3 linked regions of the Homo sapiens genome follow. The protein of the gene in region 2 interacts with the protein of the main gene of each other region in a pairwise test. Each region holds a gene or a part of one and is shown on either strand. Other genes may lie near its edges.

Region 1 (7,291 bases), on a different chromosome or scaffold from region 2:
TATTGTAAAGGAATTGTTTTCTTAATTTCATTTTTTGTTTGATTTTTGTGCATTAATCTGGTATTCTACAATCTTGCTGAATTATTTCATTAATTCTAATAGCATTTTACTGGAATCTGTAGGATTTTCTTATATAAGATCATGTCTTCTGGATGCATTTTATTTATCTTTCCTTTCCTCCTTCCCTTGCTTGCCTTCCTTCCTGCCTGCCTGCCTGCTTTCCTTCTTGCCTTCCTGCCTTCCCCCTCTCCCTCCCTCCCTCCCTCCTTCCTTCATTCCTTTTCTTTCCTTTCCCTTTTTCCTAACTGCCATGGCTAGAACTTCCAGTAAAATATTGAATAGAAATTGTGAGAGCAAATATCCTTGTGTTGTTCCTAATCTTAGGAGGAAAAAATTCAGTCTCTCATTATTAAGTATGATGTCAGTTGTGTGTTTTTTGTAGGTGCCCTTTATCAGGTTGATGTAGTTCACTTCTATTCCTAGTTTGTGGAGTGTTTCTGTCATGAAGGAATGTTGAAGTTTGTCAAATGCTTTTTCTGCATCTATTGAGATGAACTTTTTTTTTTTGCTTTTTCATCTATCAATATCATGTATTCCATTAATTGAATTTCAGAGGTCAAACCAGCCTTGCATTCCTGGCGTAAATCTCACTTGGTCATTGTATATAATCCTTTTTATGCTGTACTTGATTAGCTAGTAATTTGTTGAGGATTTTGGTGACAATATTTATAATAGATATTGGTCTGTAGTTTTTTGTGATATCTTTTGTTGTGATGTCTTTGGTTTTGGTATTGGGGTAATGCTGGTCTCATAGAATGAGTTAGAAAGTGTTCCCTCATTTTTTATTTTTTGGACAAGTTTGTGAAGAATTGGTATTTATTGTTTTTAAATGTTTGGTAGAATTCACCAGTTAAACCATCTGGGCCTGGGAAGTTTTCTGATTACTAATTCCTTTACTAGTTATAGGTCTATTCATATTTTCTATTTTTTTCTTGGTTCAGTTTTGGTAGTTTGCATATTTCTAGGAATTTGTGCATTTCATCTGTTTTCTAGTTTGTTGGTATATTGTTGTTCATAGTATTCCTTTATAATTCACTGTATTTCTATGAGGTTGGTAGTAATGTCCCTTCTTTTATTTCTTATTTTAGTAACTTGACTCTTCCCTCTTTATGCTTGTGTCTTAAGTCTCAGTTTTCTTTTCTATAAAATGGGTATAGTAAAATCTGCCTTGCAGAGTTATTGACATTGTCAGTAATCACCTTGGATCTTGTTAAAAAGCAGATTCAGTGGGTTTGCCATTTCTATCAAGTGTCCAGGTAATGTTGACGCTGCTGGACCAGGGACCATACTTGTATCCTGGTATCCTTCTGGCTCTCAGCTCTCTCATGAAAAGTGTTTATTAGGAGCATCTTCTGTCGCTTTAAGAATCCATTTTCCCAAGATGTTTAGTGAATTTCTCTCCAGGGCTGTGGGAGAGGAAGATACTCCCTTCCTCCTTGGCCCTCTCTGACTTATGTCCTTTCCTCTCAGTGGACAGCTCTGTGAGATCCCTCCCCATCTGCCTGCCCCCAAGAGCCCCTGTGAGGGGACTGAGTGCCAGAATGGGGCCAACTGTGTGGACCAGGGCAACAGGCCTGTGTGCCAGTGCCTCCCAGGCTTCGGTGGCCCTGAGTGTGAGAAGTTGCTCAGTGTCAACTTTGTGGATCGGGACACTTACCTGCAGTTCACTGACCTGCAAAACTGGCCACGGGCCAACATCACGTTGCAGGTGCGTGCCAGGGGGCTTGGTCACAGAGGGGAGTCAGGGAGCAGGCGACCCTGGCTTAGGCCAGAGCATCAGGATACATCCCTGCATGGTGCCTGGGGAACTGGAAGGACTCTGTGTAATCAAAACGTTTTGCATATGGGTATCAAAATCTCAGCTTGAACTAGTTTAAGCACAATTAGAAAGGTTATAGTGTCACAAAACCAGGGCAGGGGTGGACATGGTCTCATGGGTAACTGAATCCAGAAAACCAGGCTTGCCATCATCCCTTCCCACCATTTCTTGTCCCAGCTACTCCTCAGTGTCTGCCTCCAGTGCTGCAGACAGGCTTTCTATGTGTGCCTGGAATGTGGCCAGATTTAACTTTGGGCTTATACCTTTAACCAAATGTCCCTAGGGTCCCTTAACTCATCCTTTTCATGCCTTCAGTTCCATCTCAGAACATCTTCATGTTGAGGGGAAAATAAAGCAATTCCCACTTCAGCAGCATTGATGAAATATATCAATATTTTGCTAAACACTTCTTTTGGGGGATGGAGAGGAGAGTGGTTTATATTGCACAGCACATGATAAAGAATGTTAAACTCCTCTGTAGTCATCTTTCTCTTTCCCCCGAATTCCATTCCCTGTCACAAATGCCACATCTTTCTTCCCTCTCTTTTGTCCTCTTTTCCTTTTTTCTCAGAACTCTTCAGCCTCTCAAACATGCGCATTCTGCTCTCTTCCCCTACGTCACCTCTCCAACATCCTATCCACTTACATAGTCTACATGGCAAGACAACAGCTAGCCTAACCGCCAAAAATAAAATTCACCAAAACCCTAACCAGCCATTGCCTCGGGCACATCCTTGGTTTATCCTCATCTTTTACCAGACATTGATTTACAAAGGCTCTTCCTTGCCAGCTCTAATTCGGTCAGCTCAAGGAAGATCTCTGATTGGCCTGGCGTTAGTCACATGCCCATCTCTGAACCAGCTGCTGAGTCCAAGGAGATGGGGCAGTGTGACTGGACAGCTTGGGTCATATGCCCAGCTCCACAGACCAGGGGGCTCAGGGTCTTTACCAGAAGAAACGGAGGGAGCAGGACAAGGCAGGGAAAAATGATCATGGCTCCTACAGCATCTTAGAGGGATCTCCCTCCTGAGGCAAAGATCTCACTTTTGCTTGCACAGTTCCAGCGACAGACACTACCTTCTGAGTGGCTCCTTCCACTAGGCTTGGATGACTCTGGCTGTCAGAGAGCCTTCCTGAACTTGTCCTCTCTGTAGTTCCCACCCTGAGCAGTTAGCTCCCCAAGGCCCACAGGGCAAGGCTACCCACACCCAGCAGACAGGGGTCCCAGTCTAATTTTCCTCTCTGGGAAGATTGTCCTGAGGTCTCCTGGCTGCTCTTCCTGGCACAGAGTTTCCAGGCCTCAGGGACCCATCACCCTCCCCTGCCTGGACCTGGCCAGGCTGGCAGTGGATGGGGCTTGAACCAGAGGCTGCAGCCCCTATTGGTGCCCCCTGGAGGAATGGCCTTGGGGAGGCTGGCCAGGTGGGGGAAGAGCGCTCTGCACAGAGCATCTCTCTTCCAATCTTGGGTGCCCTCTCTGCCCCATCTGCTAGCCTGTGCCGCTGCTGCATGGGGTGGGGTGGGAGAGAAAGTGCCACTGCCCATCAGGTCTCCACGGCAGAGGACAATGGGATCCTTCTGTACAACGGGGACAACGACCACATTGCAGTTGAGCTGTACCAGGGCCATGTGCGTGTCAGCTACGACCCAGGCAGCTACCCCAGCTCTGCCATCTACAGGTAGGGCTTCCTTATGCCCCCCAGCTGCCCTCAGGGGTACGGGACTGCCAGGGCGAGGTCTCCTGGGCCAAAAGCAGGTGGTTATCGAGACCTCTAGAAACCTGGGCTGCCTGAGTTTGAAGGACACTTGAACCATCTGGGTTAGCCCCAGCTTGGGGCTGAGGTCTCTGAGGCCTGTGCAGTGGCCCCATCCTTCCCCATCCCACCACCACCTTAGAGGAGGCTCCTTAATGGGGAGGGGGAGACTTGTAAGTTTGAGACCCCTGCCTCAAACCTCTCAGCCTTCCCCAGGGAGTCAAAGAAGGGGAGTGAAAGGGATCATGCGATAGACCCTTGAGCCCCCACAGTCCTTTTCCTTAGATATTTGGTCTCCTGGGAAGCAGCTACTGGTGTTTCTGGGGAAGTGCCCAGGCAGGGATGGTCCAGACTGATGCCCACTCCCTGGAACGGGGAACCCCCTCTTCCTCCAGTGCTGAGACGATCAACGATGGGCAATTCCACACCGTTGAGCTGGTTGCCTTTGACCAGATGGTGAATCTCTCCATTGATGGCGGGAGCCCCATGACCATGGACAACTTTGGCAAACATTACACGCTCAACAGCGAGGCGCCACTCTATGTGGGAGGTGAGGACCTGGCCCTGGCGGGGCCTCTTTTGCTGTCTGGCCTGAGGCCAGCCAGGAGAGCTGGTGCCTAGGGACTGCACTGTGGGAAATGCCAAGTGGGAAGATGATCCTGGTGGTGGCCAAGCTGCAGGTGGACTGGCCTCGCTGCCTGGAGCCCAGCTGCTCTCTGCCTAGCCCAGACTGACCAAGGAGGATGGATGCTTGGGTTGGGTGCAAGGTCTGGCTTAGGGGAGGCCCTGGGACTGTCCGAGCTATCTGCAACACCTTGGGCACATTTCCTCTTGGTTTTGGGCTAGAAGGGGCTTTTCAATGGCTTCAGGTCCATTCCCAGTCTTGGGGCCCTCTGAGACCCAGAACCACTGCAAGAGACTCAGGCACAGAGTCCCTGTATCAACCAGGGACTGCCTCGGCTGGCCTTAGAGGCTTTGCAGGCTAGATGACCCCGTCTACCACCTGCAAGCATTTCTCGGTATTGATGAGCAGGCTGCTGGATGCAGTGGGGCCATCTCCACCCTGTGGGAGGCGTGCTGAGGCTGGGGCAGAGGTGAGGGATGGCCCTGGGCCTCAGCCCAGCTCCGCAGCTTACTCCTTGTGCAGCTTCAGGCCAGTCATGAGCATCTGTCAAATGGGGCTTAGCAAGCCCTACTTCAGAGGGCTGCTGAGAAGGGACAGCCACAAAAGCAGTGACCTAGCGCCACACGTGATGTCTCGGTCCTGCCCCTTTGCTACGGCTGGGGTCTCTGGGAGGTAAAAGCTAGCGTCCCAGGGAGAGAAGGCGCCTTGGCGAGGGAAGCCAGACTTTAGGAACAGGCACCTCAGAGCCACACGCAGCAGCTGGCCACCACCAGGCCTGATGCCCCAGCTCCAATCACAGAGGAAGCAGCTTTTCCCTTTCTTCTGGGCAAGGAGCCTGGGCCCTCCAAGGTGGCAAAGGACCTTGGATCAGGGTTGCAGAGATGAAGGACAGAGGCCGCAGGCAAGAGGGAAGGCCATGGAGCTGCCCAGACCTCAGGGGTGGGTGCCCGGCATAGCCCGAGCTTTACTCAGCCCAGCTCTGCTCCCTCCCCTACCCCAGGGATGCCCGTGGATGTCAACTCAGCTGCCTTCCGCCTGTGGCAGATCCTCAACGGCACCGGCTTCCACGGTTGCATCCGAAACCTGTACATCAACAACGAGCTGCAGGACTTCACCAAGACGCAGATGAAGCCAGGCGTGGTGCCAGGCTGCGAACCCTGCCGCAAGCTCTACTGCCTGCATGGCATCTGCCAGCCCAATGCCACCCCAGGGCCCATGTGCCACTGCGAGGCTGGCTGGGTGGGCCTGCACTGTGACCAGCCCGCTGACGGCCCCTGCCATGGCCACAAGTGAGCCTGGGGCACTGGGGGAGCCCTTGCCCCTGCCTACCTGTTCCTTCCCCATGGGAAGGGCTGCCTCACAGTTTTCCAACCCATATTAGAACATGTAGCCTAAGCCAGGGTTTTATTACTTTTATCTGGCTTTCACTTTTTATTAATAGGACAAGGCCTATAGGGACACACACATAGTCGCATGCAACTCCCTTTGTTTCAGTTTTGGGAACAGATTAAAGACCTGTGAAGTCAGGGCTGGGTGGGGTGGGCTGTGTCAGGTGGGGCGGGCTGTGTCAGGTGGGGCTTGGCTGGGTTTGTCCTCACAGCGCCTTTTCTCTGTCTCCTCCAGGTGTGTCCATGGGCAATGCGTGCCCCTCGACGCTCTTTCCTACAGCTGCCAGTGCCAGGATGGGTACTCGGGGGCACTGTGCAACCAGGCCGGGGCCCTGGCAGAGCCCTGCAGAGGCCTGCAGTGCCTGCATGGCCACTGCCAGGCCTCAGGCACCAAGGGGGCACACTGTGTGTGTGACCCCGGCTTTTCGGGCGAGCTGTGTGAGCAAGGTCAGGGGCCCCCCTCCTGACGTGCCCTCCCCAGGGTCCCCCACAAATTGCTTTAGCAATTTGACTCTTCCTCCCAGTCTCGGCAGCCCTTCTGTCCCTTCCCAGCCCTGTACCATGGGCTACTATGGGGCTTTCAGAGTCCCTCCACCCTCTGGGCACTGCTCCCAATCTCTCCTGGCCCAGTTTGCCCTGCAGCTCCCTTATTCAGGGTATGCGCCTCTTCTGGCTGGGGTCTCTCCTTGCAGAAGAGACCACCCAGGGTAACAGCTCCTGGCCCAACCTCTGCCTCTTGGCCCCATCACCTCATGACCTGGGAGCGGCAGCAGGAAGTCCGAGGGTTGGGGACTCCTTCCCAGGCCCTCCCTGGCCTGCTTGACCAAGATGGCTTCTGCTGGAATCCGGACTGCTAAGGCTGGGCAGGGAGAAGCTGGAGAAACCCAGAACTCAGGCACCTTAAGGGTCCCCTAGGCTATCCCCTCCCCAGCATGAATCCTTTTCATAATGTTATTGCCCCCGGGGCCTCCAGCCTCTCTTGCACGCCTCTAGCAATGGGGACCCCCCCTCCCTCCAGCAGTTCAGTCTGTCCTGGAGGGCCCTGACGCTAGGACCAGACTGTAGGCCCTGGGAGGAAGCTTGTGCATGTCAGTGGGAGGCGGAAGTATGCTGGGGACAGAGGTGGGGTCTGAGAGCCAAAGGATCCACCCCACAGATGCTGCCCTCCTCCTCCTCTTCCTCCTGCCTCCCTGGAGGCAGCAGCTCACCCATGGGTGTGCCCTGAGGCTTTCTCTTGGTGTCTGTCCCATCCAGAGTCCGAGTGCCGGGGGGACCCTGTCCGGGACTTTCACCAGGTCCAGAGGGGCTATGCCATCTGCCAGACCACGCGCCCCCTGTCATGGGTGGAGTGCCGGGGCTCGTGCCCAGGCCAGGGCTGCTGCCAGGGCCTTCGGCTGAAGCGGAGGAAGTTCACCTTTGAGTGCAGCGATGGGACCTCTTTTGCCGAGGAGGTGGAAAAGCCCACCAAGTGTGGCTGTGCCCTCTGCGCATAGCGCTGGGCGTGGACAGGCCGGTGAGGGCGGGCAAGGGGCCCCAGCCGCTGCAGCAGCGGAGACAGTCGCCAGCAGCTGGGCTGGGGTGCAGGTCATCACAGGACGGCTCCTGGGCAGCTGGGCCCTCCTGGGTGGGGTGGTGCCAGAGCAGC
Region 2 (8,202 bases):
CCTCAGCTTCCCGAGTAGCTGGGATTACAGTGCGTGTCACCACACCACACCTGGCTAATTTTTGTATTTTTTTTTTTTTTTTTTTTTTTTTTTTTTTTTTTTTTTTTTTGTGACAGAGTCTCACTCTGTCGCCCAGGCTGTAGTGCAATGGCACGAGCTCAGCTCGCTGCAACCTCCACCTCCCAGGTTCAAGCGATTCTCCTACCTCAGCCTCCCAAGTAGCTGGGACTATAGGTGCCCGCCACCATGCCCGTCTAATTTTTATATTTTTAGCAGAGATGGGGTTTCACCATATTGGCCAGGCTGGTCTCAAACTCCTGACCTTGTGATCCACCCGTCTTGGCCTCCCAAAGTGCTGGGATTACAGGCGTGAGCCACCTCACCCATCCTAATTTTTGTATTTTTAATAGAGACGGGGTTTCGCCATGTTGGCCAGGCCAGTCTCGAACTCCTGGCTTCAAGTGATTGGCCCGTCCTCTGCCTCCCAAAGTGCTGGGATTACAGGCATGAAACACCTGCCCGGCCAGAACACCCACCTTCTTTAGCATCAGAAAACTCCACGGTGATGGCAGCTGTATAAATGGATGGAGTGCGGAAAAAAACTTAAGCTCCAAGATTGCCTTGAATTCTGATTCATTCTGTACCAGAAACTAAACATTCAGAAGACAATTGTTCAAGGCCAGGCACAGTGGCTCACACCTGGAGTTCAAGACCAACCTGGCCAACATGATGAAACCCCCTCTCTCCTAAAAATACAAAAATTAGCCAGGTGTGGTGGCGGGTGCCTGTAATCCCAGCTACTTGGGAGGCTGAGGCAGGAGAATCACTTGATCCCAAAGGTGGAGGTTGCAGTGAGCCAAGATCGCACCACTGCACTCCACCCTGGGTGACAGAGCAAGACTCTGTCTCAAAAAGAAAAAAAAAGGCACTTGTTCAAGAGTAGGGCTGTCCACAGTTAGACCCTGCTAAGGAATGACTGTTCGTTATCTCACCTCCTAATTACAGGGAAAGAGTGTGGTCTGGCCCCACTCAGATCATATATTCATTCTTGATTAATTCAACTATGGGTGGGGGAGCAGAATTACACAGTATTTACACAGCTATCTGGGACTCACTGCTGTTGGTGAGGAGGGCAGTTAAAGGGGCTGTTGTATGCTGATAGATACTCTACAAAGACCGTACCATGTTGAGCATATACTTCCTAGACTAAGTTCATTTCCCTCAACACTCCATGCCAGAGGCTCTTAACCCAACTGCCCATTAGAACCACTTGGGATGTTGTGTTTTTGTTTTTGTTTTTTAATACCAATGCCTAGGCTGAATCCTAGACCAATTATTTCAGAATCTCTGGGAGCAGGTCCCAGGTATCAGTATTTTTTTTTTAATTCCCTAGGTAATTATAAGGTGATGCTACAAAGAACCACTTTTTTTTTTTTTTTTTTTTTTTTTTTGAGATGGAGTCTTGCTCTGTCACCCAGGCTGGAGTGCAGTGGCGCGATCTTGGCTCACTGCAACCTCCACCTCCCAGGTTCAAGCAATTCTCCTGCCTTACCCTCCTGAGTAGCTGGGATCACAGGCATGTGCCACCATGCCCAGCTAAATTTTTTTTGTATTTTTAGTAGAGACAGGGTTTCACCATATTGGCTAGGCTGGTCTCAAACTCCTGACCTCAGGTGATCTGCCTGCCTCAGCCTCCCAGAGTGCTGGGATTACAGGTGTTAGCCACCGCGCCCAGCCAAATAACCACTTCTGTAGACCTTTGCTACTCAAATTGTCACCTGAAGACCAGCAGCATTGGCATCACCTGGGAGATTTATCAGAACTACAAGCTCACTGAATCAAACTCTACTCTTTGACAATGCTACCAGGTGACTTCGTGGACACACTAAGGTTTGAGAAGCATTACTCCAGACCCTGCTCCATGTGTGTGTCTTGGCATCTAATATTGCCAAGAAGAAGTCTGAGGCAGCCTGATTTTGCTTCCTTTTCAGTCTGGAAATTTGCAGAACTTTAAATCTTAAATTTTCGTAATTTCACTAGGATATGTCTTGTTGCTGGTTTTTCCCCATTAAAATTTCCTAGAATTTAGAGAGCATTTTCAGCCTGCAGATTCTCCTCCCTGATGAATGGCTTTTTCCTTCAAGTTTGTCCTATCAGGATTAGAACTAGGGTTAGATTTAAGGACACAACCCATTTTAAGATTATGTTGTCTTTCTAGTATGTATATATTTTTTAAATTGAGGTATCACTGACATACAATAAGCCATGCATAAAGTGTATGATTTGATAAGTTTTGCCATATGTATATGTCTCTCAAAAAATAACACAATCAAGATAACAAACATAATCATACCCCAAAAAGTTTCCTTATGCCCTTTTATAATCTCTCCATTCCAGCCTGCTCCTCTCCTGCCTCCAGCCCCAAGAAACCACCAATCTGTTTTCTTTTACTATAGTTTTCCTTTTCTAGAATTTTATATAAATGCTATCACACAGTATGTACTCTTTTTAAAGTTATTATTTTTTTTGGTGTGATGTCTTTCACAACACAGAATTATTTTGAGATTCACCCATGTTGTTGCATATATATCAGTAGTTCATTCCTTGTTATTACTGAGTAGTATTCCACTGTATGGATATGCCACAACTTAACTCAAATGATGGCCATTTGAATTGTTTCCAGTTTTTGGCTATTATAAATTAAGCTGTTATGAAAATTTGTATGCAAGTCTTTGTAATGTAAGGACATATGTTTTCATTTCTCTTGGGTAAATAACAAGAGTGAAATGGCTAGATAATAAGGTAGGTGTATATTTAATTTTTAAAGAATCTGCAAAGTTTTTCCAAAGAGACTGTGCCATTGTACATTTCCATCAGTATTGTATGGGTTCCACTTCTGATACATCTTTGCCTACACTTGATGTTGTCTCTACTTTTAGCTTTTCTAGTAAGTGTGTAATACTGTTTCACTGCGGTTTTAATTTGCATTTCTCTAATGACTAACAATGTTGAGCATCTTTTCAAATATTTAATTGCTTTCCATATATCTTCTTTGGTGAAGTATCTGTTCAAATCTTTTGCCTATTTTTAAAAATTGGTTTATTTTCTTATGAGTGAGTTTTGAGAGTCCTTTATATATTTTGGAAACAAGTCTTTTATCAAATATTTTTGGTATTTTCTCCCAGTCTGTGGCTTGTCTTTTCATTCTCTAAAAGTATCTTCTGAAAAGCAGAAGATTTAACTTTGATTAAGTCCAATTTATCATGTTTTTTTCCACTGGCTAATACTGTTTAGAATTTGTGGTGTATATGTATGTACGTTTATGTGCACCCACTCATGGTAAATGTTCATTTTAATAGGTTTAGCGAAGGGACAGTATGCACATGTATGTCCTTGTCATGCCATTGTTTCTGGAAATCTAATTATTTAAAACAAGTGCTGTGCATAAACTTTAAAGTGAAAATACTATAGATTTTATAAAATGAACTGTTTCTGTGACAGTTAAAATCTCTGTGCTAGGTGGCCCCACAATGGCTCCCAATGGTTCTCATATCCTGGCATTCAAACCTTGTGTATCTCTTCCCACACTGAATCATGACTAATCTGAGGAGAATGTATTGAGGAAATCATGATGCATGATTTCCAAAACTAGGTCATAAAAGCTTTGGCCTTGGCCTCTTGGATTGCTCACTTTGGGAGAAAGCTACATGCCATGTTGTGAAAACCCTCACATGGGAAGGAACTGACGCTTCCTGCCAACAACCAGCACCCACTTGACAGCCATGTGAGTAAACCACCTTGGAGGTGGATCCTCCAAACTCAGTCAAGCTTCAGATGACTTCAGCCCCACATGACACCTGACTGCAACCTCAGCAGAGACCCTCAGCCAGTACCACCCAGCCAAGCTGCTCTTGAATTCTGGGTCCACAGAAACTGTCAAAAGATAACAATGTTTATTGTTTTTAGCCACAAAGCATTAGAGTAGTTTATTATCCAGCAGTAGATACATAATATACTCTCCATGGCAGGACTTGTTTTGAAAGTGGTGGATAAATCTAATTCCTGTGGAAGGAATAACTAAAATCTGTTTCCAGGCTGGGCCGGGACACACATCCCAGTACAGGGCAGGAAAGGGCTCTAAGCCAAATGTTAATAGCTCTTTCGCTAAACTTCGAAAATTGTCCTTAAAAAAATCTATTTCCCTAAAGCACGCCACATATTGGAGTCCCAGCAGCACCTATTTTGTGTCTTCAAAAAACACAATTGGAAAACAAAACAATACAAACTCACGAGTACATACTATGTGCCAGGCACAACTGTAAATAATTTACCTATCAATTAACTAATTTAATGAATTAACCCTGAACAGCCTCAAGAGGTTGGTACCACCATCATAATACCCATTTAATAGACAAGGAAACCGGGGCAAAGAAACTTGCTGCAGGTCACACAACTAGCAAGTGGTGCAGCTGGGTTTCTGGACCTACGTAGTCCATACACATTCGGCCTTCTGAGTAATGGGTTCGCCTTTCCCCACACCCACTTTTCCCACTGCAGCGCACCCACACAATCCAGACAGTTTTGGCGCATGTGAAGGGCGCGATGGTCCCTTCATTATCTGGAAGGACACCCAGAGTGGCAAATGCCAGATAACCACGAATAATACCCAGGATAGTAACCATTCTGTGGCCTGAGCTGGCCAGACGTCATGCCCCGAAGGAGCTACCAGGTGTGGGCGCTGCAGGACCCCTGCCTGGGGCCGCCCGCTCGGGCCCGTGTTGTCTCAGGCAGTAGGGACACTGGCGCTGACGGCGGGGGTAGGAAACCACAGAGACTGGCAACTTCCCAGGTTCCTAGAGAGGAGGGGCATGGAAAACGCACTTCCGGCGGAGGGTCTCAAGCTTTCCCCGGTGTCGGCGGCAGGTGGAATTTCCACGCTTTATCTGCGCCTGCGCCGCGCGGGATTCGCGGTCCGAGCTGAAGAGGTTCGCGGTCCGGGTAACTGATTGGTTTTCCTGGGGCTTGTTCTGCCTGGTTTTGCAACCCCTTTGCTTTTTGGGGTGAGGAGTTGGCGGAAAGGAGAGGGGCCCAAGTAGCACAGAGGGCATTTGCGGGGTGCGAGGCAGCATCAATCTCACCGGTGCTTCTTTATTTTCTCTTCAGTTTCACTTCTCCGAACCCTGAGGCAGTGTGTGAAGCTGGGACGCCAGCCATGTTCCAGACCGCTTGGCGCCAGGTGAGTGAGCATCCTCTCCCTCCCTCCCACCCTTTAGATGTCAAGAGAGAGCAGGTGTCACCTCTGCATTCAGATCTTGAGTTGTGTAGGCCAGTGGCTTCCATTGTGCATCTGTCACTATGAGAGGGATGGAGAGGTGAGAATGCCCAAATTAAGACTAGAAAACTAGTGAGTGTGGGGGGATTGGTTGGGATTTGGCATTTGAAGCCAGCTTAAAAATAAAAATTATGAAATGTGGAAATCTGCATTATTACATCCAATAAAGACCCCTTTCACCCTAGTCCGCAGGCTTGGAGAAGTACTTACTTCTTCAGTATAGCAATTCTAGTAACTGTTTTGTAGATTCCATTGTATTTTCTACATAGGTCATCTATGAGTAAAGATAGTTTTACTCCTTTCTTTCCAGTCTGGATGCCTTTTATTTTATTTTGTCTTGCCTTACTGCACTGGCTAGAAGCATTATTTCAATATTGAACAGAAGTGGTGAGAGCAGATATCTTTGTCTTATTTATGCTTTTAAAGTGAAAGCATTCAATCTTTCACACTGAAGACTGATGTTCACTGTAGGTTTCTTGCTTTTTTGTTTTGTTTTGTTTTGTAAATGTCCTTTATCAGGCATTCTCTTCTAGTACTACTTTGGTGAGAGTTTTTATAGGAATGGATGTTGGATTTTGACAATTGCTTTTTCTGTGTCTATTTAGATGACCATATGGTTTTTTTTTTTTTTTTTTTTTGAGATGGAGTCTTGCTCTATCGACAGGCTGGAGTGCAGTGGCGCGATCCTGGTTCACTGCACCCTCCACCTCTGGGGTTCAAGCGATTCTCCTGCCTCAGCCTCCCGAGTAGCTGGGACTACAAGCACGCGCCACCACACCCAGCTAATTTTTGTATTTTTAGTAGAGACCAGGTTTCACCATGTTGGCCAGGATGGTCTCGATCCCTTGACCTCGTGATTCCCCCACCTTGGCTTCCCAAAGTGCTGGGATTACAGGCGTGAGCCACCGTGCCCAGCCTCTCTTTGTTAATGTGGTGAATTACATGATTTTTCTTTCAAATATTAAACCAACTCTGCGGTGGGATAAAACCGACTTCGTCATGGTGTATTATTATTTTATTAGTACTATATATTGAATTTAATTTGTTAAAATTTTATTTAGAATTTCTGTATCTATGTTTATGAGGTATTGATTTGCAGTTTTCTTTTCTTGTGATGTCTTTGTTCCATAGAATGAGAAATATTCCCTCCTCTTTAATATTTTGGAAGAATTTATGTAGAGTTGACTGCATTTCTTCCTTAAATGTTTGGTAGAATTCAACAGTGAAGCTATCTAGGCATGGGGTTTTCTTTCTGATAAGGTTTTTAAGTACAGTTTTGAGTCCTTTGGTAGATACAGGGGCTACTCTGGTTATCTCTTTTTATTTATTTATTTTTATTTTTTGACAACGGTTTTCTCTATGTTGCCCAGGCTGACCTCAAATTGGGCTCAAGCAATCCTCCCCGCTCAGCCTCCCAGGTACCTGGGACTACAGGCATGCATCACTACGCCCAGCTTAAATGAGTTTTGGTAACTTGTGCCTTTCAAGGAACTTATCCATTTTATCTAAGTTGTAGAAATTATTCACATAAAGTTGTTCATAATATGTGCTTATCTTTTATTACCTGCAGTGATGTCACTTCTTTTATTACTAATATTAATGATTTGTGTATTCTCTCTTTTTTTCTGGTCACTGGCTAGAGGTTTATGAATTTTATTAATTTTTCTTTAAGAACTAGCTTCTGGTTTCATTACTTTTCTGTTTTATGTCATTAGTTTTCACTTTGATCTTTAATGTCTTTTTTATATTTATTTTGTGTTAAATTTGCTATTCTTTTTTTAGTTTTAAGGGGGAAGCTGAAGTCACAGATTTGAGATCTTTCTTTTTTTTTTGTTTTGTAAAATAGGCATTTAGTGCTATACATTTCCTCCCAAGTACCGCTTTAGCATTATCCCGCAAATTCTAGTACATGGTGTTTTCATTTTCATTCAGTTCAAAATACTTTGTACATTCTCTTATGGAAGTGTGTTACTGACTTTACAAATATTTGGGGATTTTCCAGGAGTCTTTCTGTGATATCAAATTTAATTGCATTACAGTCAGAAAACATACTTTGTATGACTTGAATCATTTTGATTTTATTGAGCTTTCTTTTATGGCCCAGAATATGGACTGTCTACCTATCTACATTGTCTTATATGAATTTAGCCACTGCAGCTTTTTTTTTTTTCTTTTTTCCTTAGAGACAATCTTACTCTGTCTCCCAGGCTGAGTGCAGTGGTGCAATCACAGCTCACTGCAGCCTCCACCTCCCAGGCCTAAGTGATCCTCCCAAGGAGTTGAGACTAAGTTGAGACTACAGGTACAGACCACTGTGCTTGGCTCTCTTCTTTTTCCTAGAGACAAGGTTGCCTAGGCTCTTCTCAAACTCCTAGATGCAAGCCATCCTCCCGCCTCCACCTCCCAAAGTGCTGGGATTACAGGCATGAGCCACCATGCCTGGCCTTACAGTTTTCTTTGGCTAATGTTGTCATGGTATGTCTTTTTCTATTCTTTTGCTTTTAATTTATCCCTGTCTTTATATTTAACGTACATTTCTTGAAGGTTCTTCAAGCAATGTACTATCTTAAGCAGATAGTAGGTTCTTATTTGCTTAAAAGTCCAATATGACAATGTTTGCCTTTTGGGATGTTTAGATTATTTACATTTGATACCATTATTGATATGGCTGGATCTGGGCCTGTCATCTTTCTACTTGTTTTGTAATGGTCCCATCTGTTCTTTGTTTCCTTTTATTCTCTTTTTCTATTTTCTTTCTTTTCTTTTTTTTCTTTTGTTTGAGACAGAGTCACTGTGTCACCCAGGCTGGAGTGCAATGGTATGATCTCGGCTCATTGCAATTTCTGCTTTCTGGGTTCAAGCGATTCTTG
Region 3 (7,291 bases), on a different chromosome or scaffold from region 2:
AGATCATCTTTCAAGAATTCATTCTTGGATATTTCTGTGTTTACAGAATAATTCTCTTCCAAGAGCAATAAATATGCAGCTGGACACATGCGGCAAGATCCGTCCTTCTAAATCACTCTTCCTGGAGTTAAAGAAAACATTGTCTGGACATTCTTGTGATAACATCACAAGATGAGGCTCTTGAGCACTTGAATTATTATTCTGAAGCCCAACGTATAAATATCCTTTGTACCGCAGCCATCTCGAGTTGGAGCAGCCATGCTGGCACAAGATTCAATGCTTTCCTGTAATTGTTCAGTTATTGGCCTTGAAAGTTGCTGTCATTTATTTCATCACAATTGAGAGCTGTTTTTCCAACATATATGTTTTTCCAATAAAGGGTGTGATTTAGCTGTGGGACAAGAGGCTCACTGCCCATTCCATGCCCACAAACATAAGAATAATAATTTGGGAATTTGAAATAAGAACGATGAAAGGACAGAGAACTATAAATTGCGGAATTGTAAAAGCTGGAAACAAATCCCCAGATTATCTATGACAACTTCCTCATTCTATGGATGGAAAAACTGAAGCCCACGCATATTTATGAAAAAGAGGGTCCACTGAGCTTTCTCAAATAGCCGTCTGACTTACAGAAAATGAACTCCCAGTCTAACTTGAAAGGCCGTCTGTGTGGGTCAGGACAAGCACCAGCCCTGCTAGGGAAGGGAGACAGTCTACAGCCTCTGTTAATGTCTGCAGAGCTCCATTTATGTTGGCAGCTGGTGAAAGGGGTACACCTGTTTTCCTCTGAGGTAATAATCGTGATCACGGTGCTCATATACCTGATATGTGTTTTCCACTTCCTCTGATTCTACAGGACCAGGACAGAAAAAAACAAAAACAAAAAAAATCTGGCCAGGTGCGGTGGCTCACGCCTGTAATCCCAGCACTTTGGGAGGCTGAGGCGGGTGAAACACGAGGTCAGGAGATTGAGACCATCCTGGCTAACACGGTGAAACCCCATCTCTACTAAAAATACAAAAAAAAAATTATCCGGGTGTGGTGGCGGGCACCTGTAGTCCCAGCTACTTGGGAGGCTGGGGCAGGAGAATGGCGTGAACCAAGAGGTAGAGCTTGCAGTGAGCTGAGATCGTGCCACTGCACTCCAGCCTGGGCGACAAAGCGAGACTCCGTCTAAAAAAATAAAAAAATAAATCTAAGAGAATAAACTCTGAAAATAAGTAGGGCTCCACATTTGCTCAAAGTACGACTGAGGTTATGAATGTCATCATGGTGAATGTCATCATCAGTGATATGATGAATATCATTATCAGTGATACCAGCTCCCAGCAGGAACAGTAGCAGCTGCTATCTGCTCAGTGGGTCCACCTGGGAGGAGGCACTTGGCCCTGTGGTTCAGCTCCTAATTCTACAGAATTCTTTCTGAGAGTGGTGGATCCCTCTTCTACCTTGTTCCTCATCTTCTAAGAGGACACTAGAGTTCTACAAAGAGCAGAGAGCATTTCTACTCCAACCAACAGGGCAGAGCATAAAATGAGCAACTGCTGCTACCTAGGAGCACAGCAGGATGCACTGTGTGAAAGCAGGCCCCTGAAGGAGTTCCACACAGTTACATACTGCACAAGCCCTGAGCATCAGAATAAAAAGTCCATGAGCTAATAAGCAAGCTCAGAGCTTCCCTTCTATTACAACATGTTTAAAAGTATACCTATTGTCCTGTATTAGAAATCTCCTATAACTTGCATTTTTTTTTTTTTTTTGAGACAGAGTCTTGCTGTGTCACCCAGGCTGGAGTGCAGTGGCATGATCTCAGCTCACTGCAGCCTCCACCTCCCGGGTTTCAGTGATTCTCCTGCCTCAGCCTCCTGGGTTGCTGGGATTACGGGCACACGCCACCACACTCAGCTAATTTGTGTGTGTGTGTATGTGTGTGTGTGTATGTGTATTTTTTTTTTTTTAGTAGAGACGGAGTTTCACCATGTTGGCCAGACTGGTCTCAAACTCCTGACCTCAGGTGATCCGCCTGCCTTGGCCTCCTAAAGTGCTAGGATTACAGTCATGAGCCACTTGCATTTTTTACATCCCATAAATACCTGATTGCTCATTCATTCACTGAATAAACATTGGTTGAGCTGGAACTATGTGTCTAAAGTCATGAAAAGTGCAGAAGATACAAAGATGAATAAAATGCAGGCCCCTCCCCTCAAGGGACTTGTTATCTAGTGAGGAAAAGAGATATATACCAAACAGACTACCAAGCCCCTTACTCAGTGCGTGCTGGAGGTGCACAGGTATGATGGGCACGCAGAGGAGGAGCCCCTGAGAGAGCAGGCAGGCATCCCAGAGGAGATGCTATCTGTGCTAGGAACAGGTCAGCCAGGTGATATGGCAGGTCAGGTCAAGGGGTGGAGTAGGCAAAGCCAGAGACATGAGAGACAGAGTAGGGTAGGCAGAGAGCCCAGGAAGATGGAAGACCCAGTCAACAGCCAAGGCAATGAGGGCCTGGATGCCTTGTTCATGGACTTGGGTATGCCTCGCAGGCAGTGGAGAAACGGACAGCCCAGTGAAAGTTTACTGCATGGAAGCCTGCCTTTACTATGCAAGACAGGGGGCAATGACTCCTAAAAAATGTATCAGGGTATCAGAGCCCATTTCTGAATGATTTCTTCAAATAAAAGTAGGACATCTTGGTTCTACAAGGACTTATTAACCTAATTGTGTACAATCCATTTACTCTCTGTGAACTCCACATCCCTCCTGACAGGTTATCAATAATTCCTGCTCCTTAGCTGGTACACAGGAATGCTGAAAGCATCAGGCAACAGCCTGCAGGGAGATGCCCAAACATAAGGCGCAACCCCTCCTTTTTATTTCACTGAATCAAATTCCAAATCACAGTTTCCTGGAGTTCTTATTCCTCACCAAGCTAAATCATTCCATGATGTCATTACCCCTTCGGCCCTGAATAGGGTATTTGAAAAAGCTGGATCTTAGGGTACAGGCTTGACTCCAGGCCAAGGGAACTGCAATGGGTGAGGCAGGTGCCAGGTGCAGCTCGGAGGTCTGGGGATGGCCCAGGGAAGGCTTTGATCTCTGAGTCTCTCGCTAGCCCAGCTTTGACTCAGATGTAAGAATAGGTCGGGTACAGAGGCTCATGCCTGTAGTCCCAGTACTTTGGGAGACCGAGGCAGACATATCGTTTGAGCCCTGTAGTTCAAGACCAGCCTGGGCAACATGGAGAAACCCCATCTCTACAAAAAACACAAAAAATTTGCCGGGTGTGGTGGCATGCATTTGTAGTCCCTACTACTCAGGAGGCTGAGGTGGGAGGATCTTGAGCCCAGGAGGTCGAGGCTGCAGTGAGCCATGATAGCATCACTGCTCTCCAGCCTCAAGGAAACAGCCTCATGGTGACACAGACCATGTCTCCAAAGAAAAAAAAGAAAAAGAAATAAAAAGGATGTAAGAATAAAGGTTCAGAGGGCCAGGGAGCAACAATGCACTCTACTACTCACAATTCATACTAATTTTAAAAGTTCACAAGCTCATCAGTGTGATCTATTTTTAAATTTTCAGATTCAAAAACTGTAAAACAAAGTATGAGTGGGGAAAGTATCAAAGCTGGAGGAAAATAAAGGGAAAAGGAAACAGAAAGAGTAAAGAGAAGGGGAGAAGGGTGGTGACAGGACAAAAAAAGGAAGGAGGAGGGTAAATGAAATGAGGCAGAAGAGAGGCAAGGACCCTGCATGCCAGGAAGCTTTTTTTTTTTTTTTTTTTTTTTTCTTGAGACAGTGTCACTCTATCACCCAGGCTGGAGTGCACTGGCCCTATCTTGGCTCACTTCAGCCTCCACATCCTAGGTTCAAGCAATTCTCCTGTCTCAGCCTCCCAAGTAGCTGGTATTACAGGCGTGCATCACCGCACCCAGCTAATTTTTTTTTTTTTTTTAACCAGAAAGATTTCGATCAAAGGAGGGGCTGCCATGACAGACAGCCTCCCTTGGCTTGCTGGCTCAGGCCTTGGAGTTCCAGGAGCCTGGCAGATCCCTACAGGTAAAGCCTGAAGAGGTCAGATTAGCAAAAGAAGTCTATTTAAGCATCCTTTTCAATGCACCTTTTATTGACTACCTACTTTGATCTGACCCCAATGGGCCCATTTTCTCCTCCCCCTTTGAAACCCCAAGTGCTTCTCCCTATCAACCCTGCTGCAGGAGGCTCCTCTAACATAGCCATTTCCTAAGGAGAAATCTGTGAACGTCCCCAAGCCCTTCCTGCATGCAGCCCTTCAACACATGCAAAAGCAGCTTCGGTAAGTCAGTCCCTGTATCTTTAGATGTCACCGGGGATCCGCAAGGGATATTCAATTACTTATCAATAATCAACCAGAGCTTTCCAGAGACAATTAGGAAAACTGGTCTATGTGGGCTCTTTTAAAAAATACATTATAAAAGTGCAGTGTTTTCATGCAATTGCCCCGTCTTCTACCAACCGTAAGCATTGGGAAGGGTGCCCACTACCTGTCGCTGAGACCTCACCAGCAGGGAACACACACAGGACCAGGGGCTTTGTGAATACTTGTGGAATGGATGAACAAATGAATTGACGGGTGGATGAATACAAACATGTCAGAGTACAAACATACAGGCAAAAATCAAGCATGAAAAATTAGAAACATATTATGTGAACAATCCACTCTGCATAGCAAACCCAACATGTAATGTGGTTTGGCATATGACATCATGAGCTTCCATCGCTGCCCTCGTCCCTCCTTCCAGATAAGCTGCTGCTTCCGCAGCGGATATAACTCTTCTTATTGTGTTTGGACTCCAATCCCATGTGAACACACAGCTGCACAGTCCAGGATGCAGCCTGGCCAGGTCAAGAAGCAAAAAGCCAGCTGGGAGTCGTGCCCACTTTGGGAAGAACGCACAGATCCCCAACACGGGCTCCAGGTGTCAGCAGAAGGCCCTGATGTTCTACAGACATGTGATGCCTATAATCAAAGATCCTCCATTCAAAGGCACGGGACTCTCACACCTGGAAATGTGCTCAGAGAATACCCCGCACCATTTTATTTTCCTACGGATGGGAGTATCTACACACAAAAACCGCTCACCCCCAACACTCTTCATTTGTCTAGCTAAACGGGTTGTTTTAAACAGAAATTCTGATAAAACGGAGAGGGCCATCATGTCAAGGAAAGTTGCTGTTTTATAAACTAGAATAATGGATCAAGCCTTGGAGTCCCTAAAGAGAGAGGATCTCTTGAGCCCAAGAGTTCGAGGCTGCAGTGAGCTGTAGTGCTGCCACTATACTCCAGCCTGGACCACAGTGTAAGACCCGGTCTCTAAAAAAAAAAAAAAATTTATATCAGTTGGATATGGTGATGTGTGCCTACAGTCCTAGCTACCTGGGAGACTGAGGCAGGAGGACTGCTTGAGCCCAGGGGTTTGAGGCTTTAGTGAGCTATGATGGCACCTGTGAAAAGCTACTGCACTCCAGCCTGAGCAACAGAATGAGACCCTGGGAAAAAAAAAAGAAAAGAAGGAAAGAAAGAAAGAAAGAGAAAAAAGAAAGAAAGAAAAAAAGTATCTAGCATCCACTTGAAATCTATTTTTAAATTGTTGGATTTTAAACAATCTTAGTTTGTAAGGTATAAAATTGACTATGCTTACCACTGTATAATATATTTACAGATTAATTTAATAAGCCTTTACTAAATGCATGTACAGACAGGTGTCAGAGGTGTATTATAGTTTACATAAACTGGTAACTTCCAACTTAAAAAAAATAAATAAACATCTTCATCTCTGGTGGTTCTGCATGAGGCAATGTTTGAATAAGGTAAACTGCTGTCTTCTGAATTATCTTTTGAATATTGAATACTAAAAATAAAGGGAAAACAATAAATATCAAATTTCTGATCTGAAGTCCATGACTACAAGAGGAGTTACACTTGTTTTGATGTCGTTCAGCCTTTTGAACCCAGCCGACAAGAATGTGTTGAGTAACCACTGTTTTCCATGTGCTACGTGAGGCACTGGGAAGCTGAGATAAAACACACAGTCTATGAAGGAGTTCCAGTCTAGTTCTAGCTCCAAATAATTTAAATCACCTTTAAGATCCCATCTTGTCATTTAATCTCAAAACACATCAATTGCAGCCATGCAGGACAACCATAGCTGCACACGCTAGAATGGCGGGTGGCCTCGGGTCCGTCAATCACACCAGTGTGGGGACCAAGGGAGACTCCATCCTGCATGCTATGGCTCTACCATGCCTTCCCTGAGTGAGTTACGAACACTTCTACACCTACAAAACGAAAACCACCCACTCTTCTTCATGGCAGGGGTCTCCTCTCACCTCCCAAGTGCGGCTCACTGTTCACTCTCCCAGCTATCTGAGGTGCCTATGACCCCCACCCCCATGCTGGCCTTTCTCTTGGCATCCAGCAGCTTCCATGAATGACTGGCCACCTCCTTCTCACTGCAGTCCTGCCACTCTGTGGGGTTTCTCTGGCGCACTGCAACAGGACTCTGTCCCGAGAGGCTTGCACAGTTCCTTCTGCTTCCTTCATTGACTGCCTGCTTCTTAGTGACTCCAAAAGTTGTATTAACCCAAGCAGACAGGTCTATTTCCTTGTTGACTGACAAGCTCCATATTTACATACTGCAAGGACATTCTGGCATTAATTCTGTTCACCCATGAAAACAGGGCAGCTGCTTCTGCCACAGACATCCCACATCTCACTCAAGACCATATGACGGGAGGATCTTGAAGCCGCAGACAGAATCAGGCTAGTAAAGGCGTGGGCCACCGAAGGCTGAGGATGAGTGTGAAGTCTAAGTTCACACCAGGCAAGACACCACCCACGAGCACTGGGATGGACCTGGGAGACCAGACGCTGCTCCAGACCCCTCGTGACATCCCCATGCAGAGAGCATGTTTTACAGCAAGAGGAAAGCCAAGACTCCCAGGAGCAAAGTAGTGATCAAATCTTAAAAAAAGGGAGAATGACAGTTGGTGGGGAGACTTTTTAAATAGATGTTACCAGAGAGCTGTAATAGTCAGGGTTTTCTAGAAAAATAGAACCAACAAGAGATGTACATAGAGAGATTTATCGCAATGATTTAGCTCACACAATTACGAAGGTGAAAAAGTCCCAAGACCTGCAGTCAGTAGGCTGGAGACCCAGGAGAGCCGATGGTGCAAATTGCAGTCTGAAAAGAGGAGACTCTATAGACCCAAGAAGAGCCGATGTTTCAGTGTGAGTCCAAAGGCGGAAAGGA

Evidence for each region. Proteins that work in one complex are often made in the same cells at the same time.
Region 1: the proteins of ZNF620 (region 2) and SLIT1 interact in binary tests that used the Homo sapiens proteins (3 or more experiments, as listed by UniProt).
Region 3: the proteins of ZNF620 (region 2) and FHL2 interact in binary tests that used the Homo sapiens proteins (3 or more experiments, as listed by UniProt).

The regions. Positions count from the first base shown.
Region 1 is NC_000010.11:97,000,960-97,008,250, reverse strand, and holds part of SLIT1 (slit homolog 1 protein precursor), read left to right. Parts: intron 1-1,530; coding exon 1,531-1,768; intron 1,769-3,427; coding exon 3,428-3,558; intron 3,559-4,028; coding exon 4,029-4,183; intron 4,184-5,258; coding exon 5,259-5,547; intron 5,548-5,881; coding exon 5,882-6,093; intron 6,094-6,900; coding exon 6,901-7,139; 3' UTR 7,140-7,291. UniProt on the Homo sapiens protein: Thought to act as molecular guidance cue in cellular migration, and function appears to be mediated by interaction with roundabout homolog receptors.
Region 2 is NC_000003.12:40,501,141-40,509,342, forward strand, and holds the start of ZNF620 (zinc finger protein 620), read left to right. Parts: upstream 1-4,898; 5' UTR 4,899-4,998; exon of another isoform or gene 4,999-5,060; intron 5,061-5,163; 5' UTR 5,164-5,212; coding exon 5,213-5,236; intron 5,237-7,600; exon of another isoform or gene 7,601-7,634; intron 7,635-7,672; coding exon of another isoform or gene 7,673-7,807; intron 7,808-8,202. UniProt on the Homo sapiens protein: May be involved in transcriptional regulation.
Region 3 is NC_000002.12:105,389,052-105,396,342, forward strand, and holds part of FHL2 (four and a half LIM domains protein 2), read right to left. Parts: intron 1,177-7,291; exon of another isoform or gene 1,056-1,176; intron 1-1,055. UniProt on the Homo sapiens protein: May function as a molecular transmitter linking various signaling pathways to transcriptional regulation. Negatively regulates the transcriptional repressor E4F1 and may function in cell growth.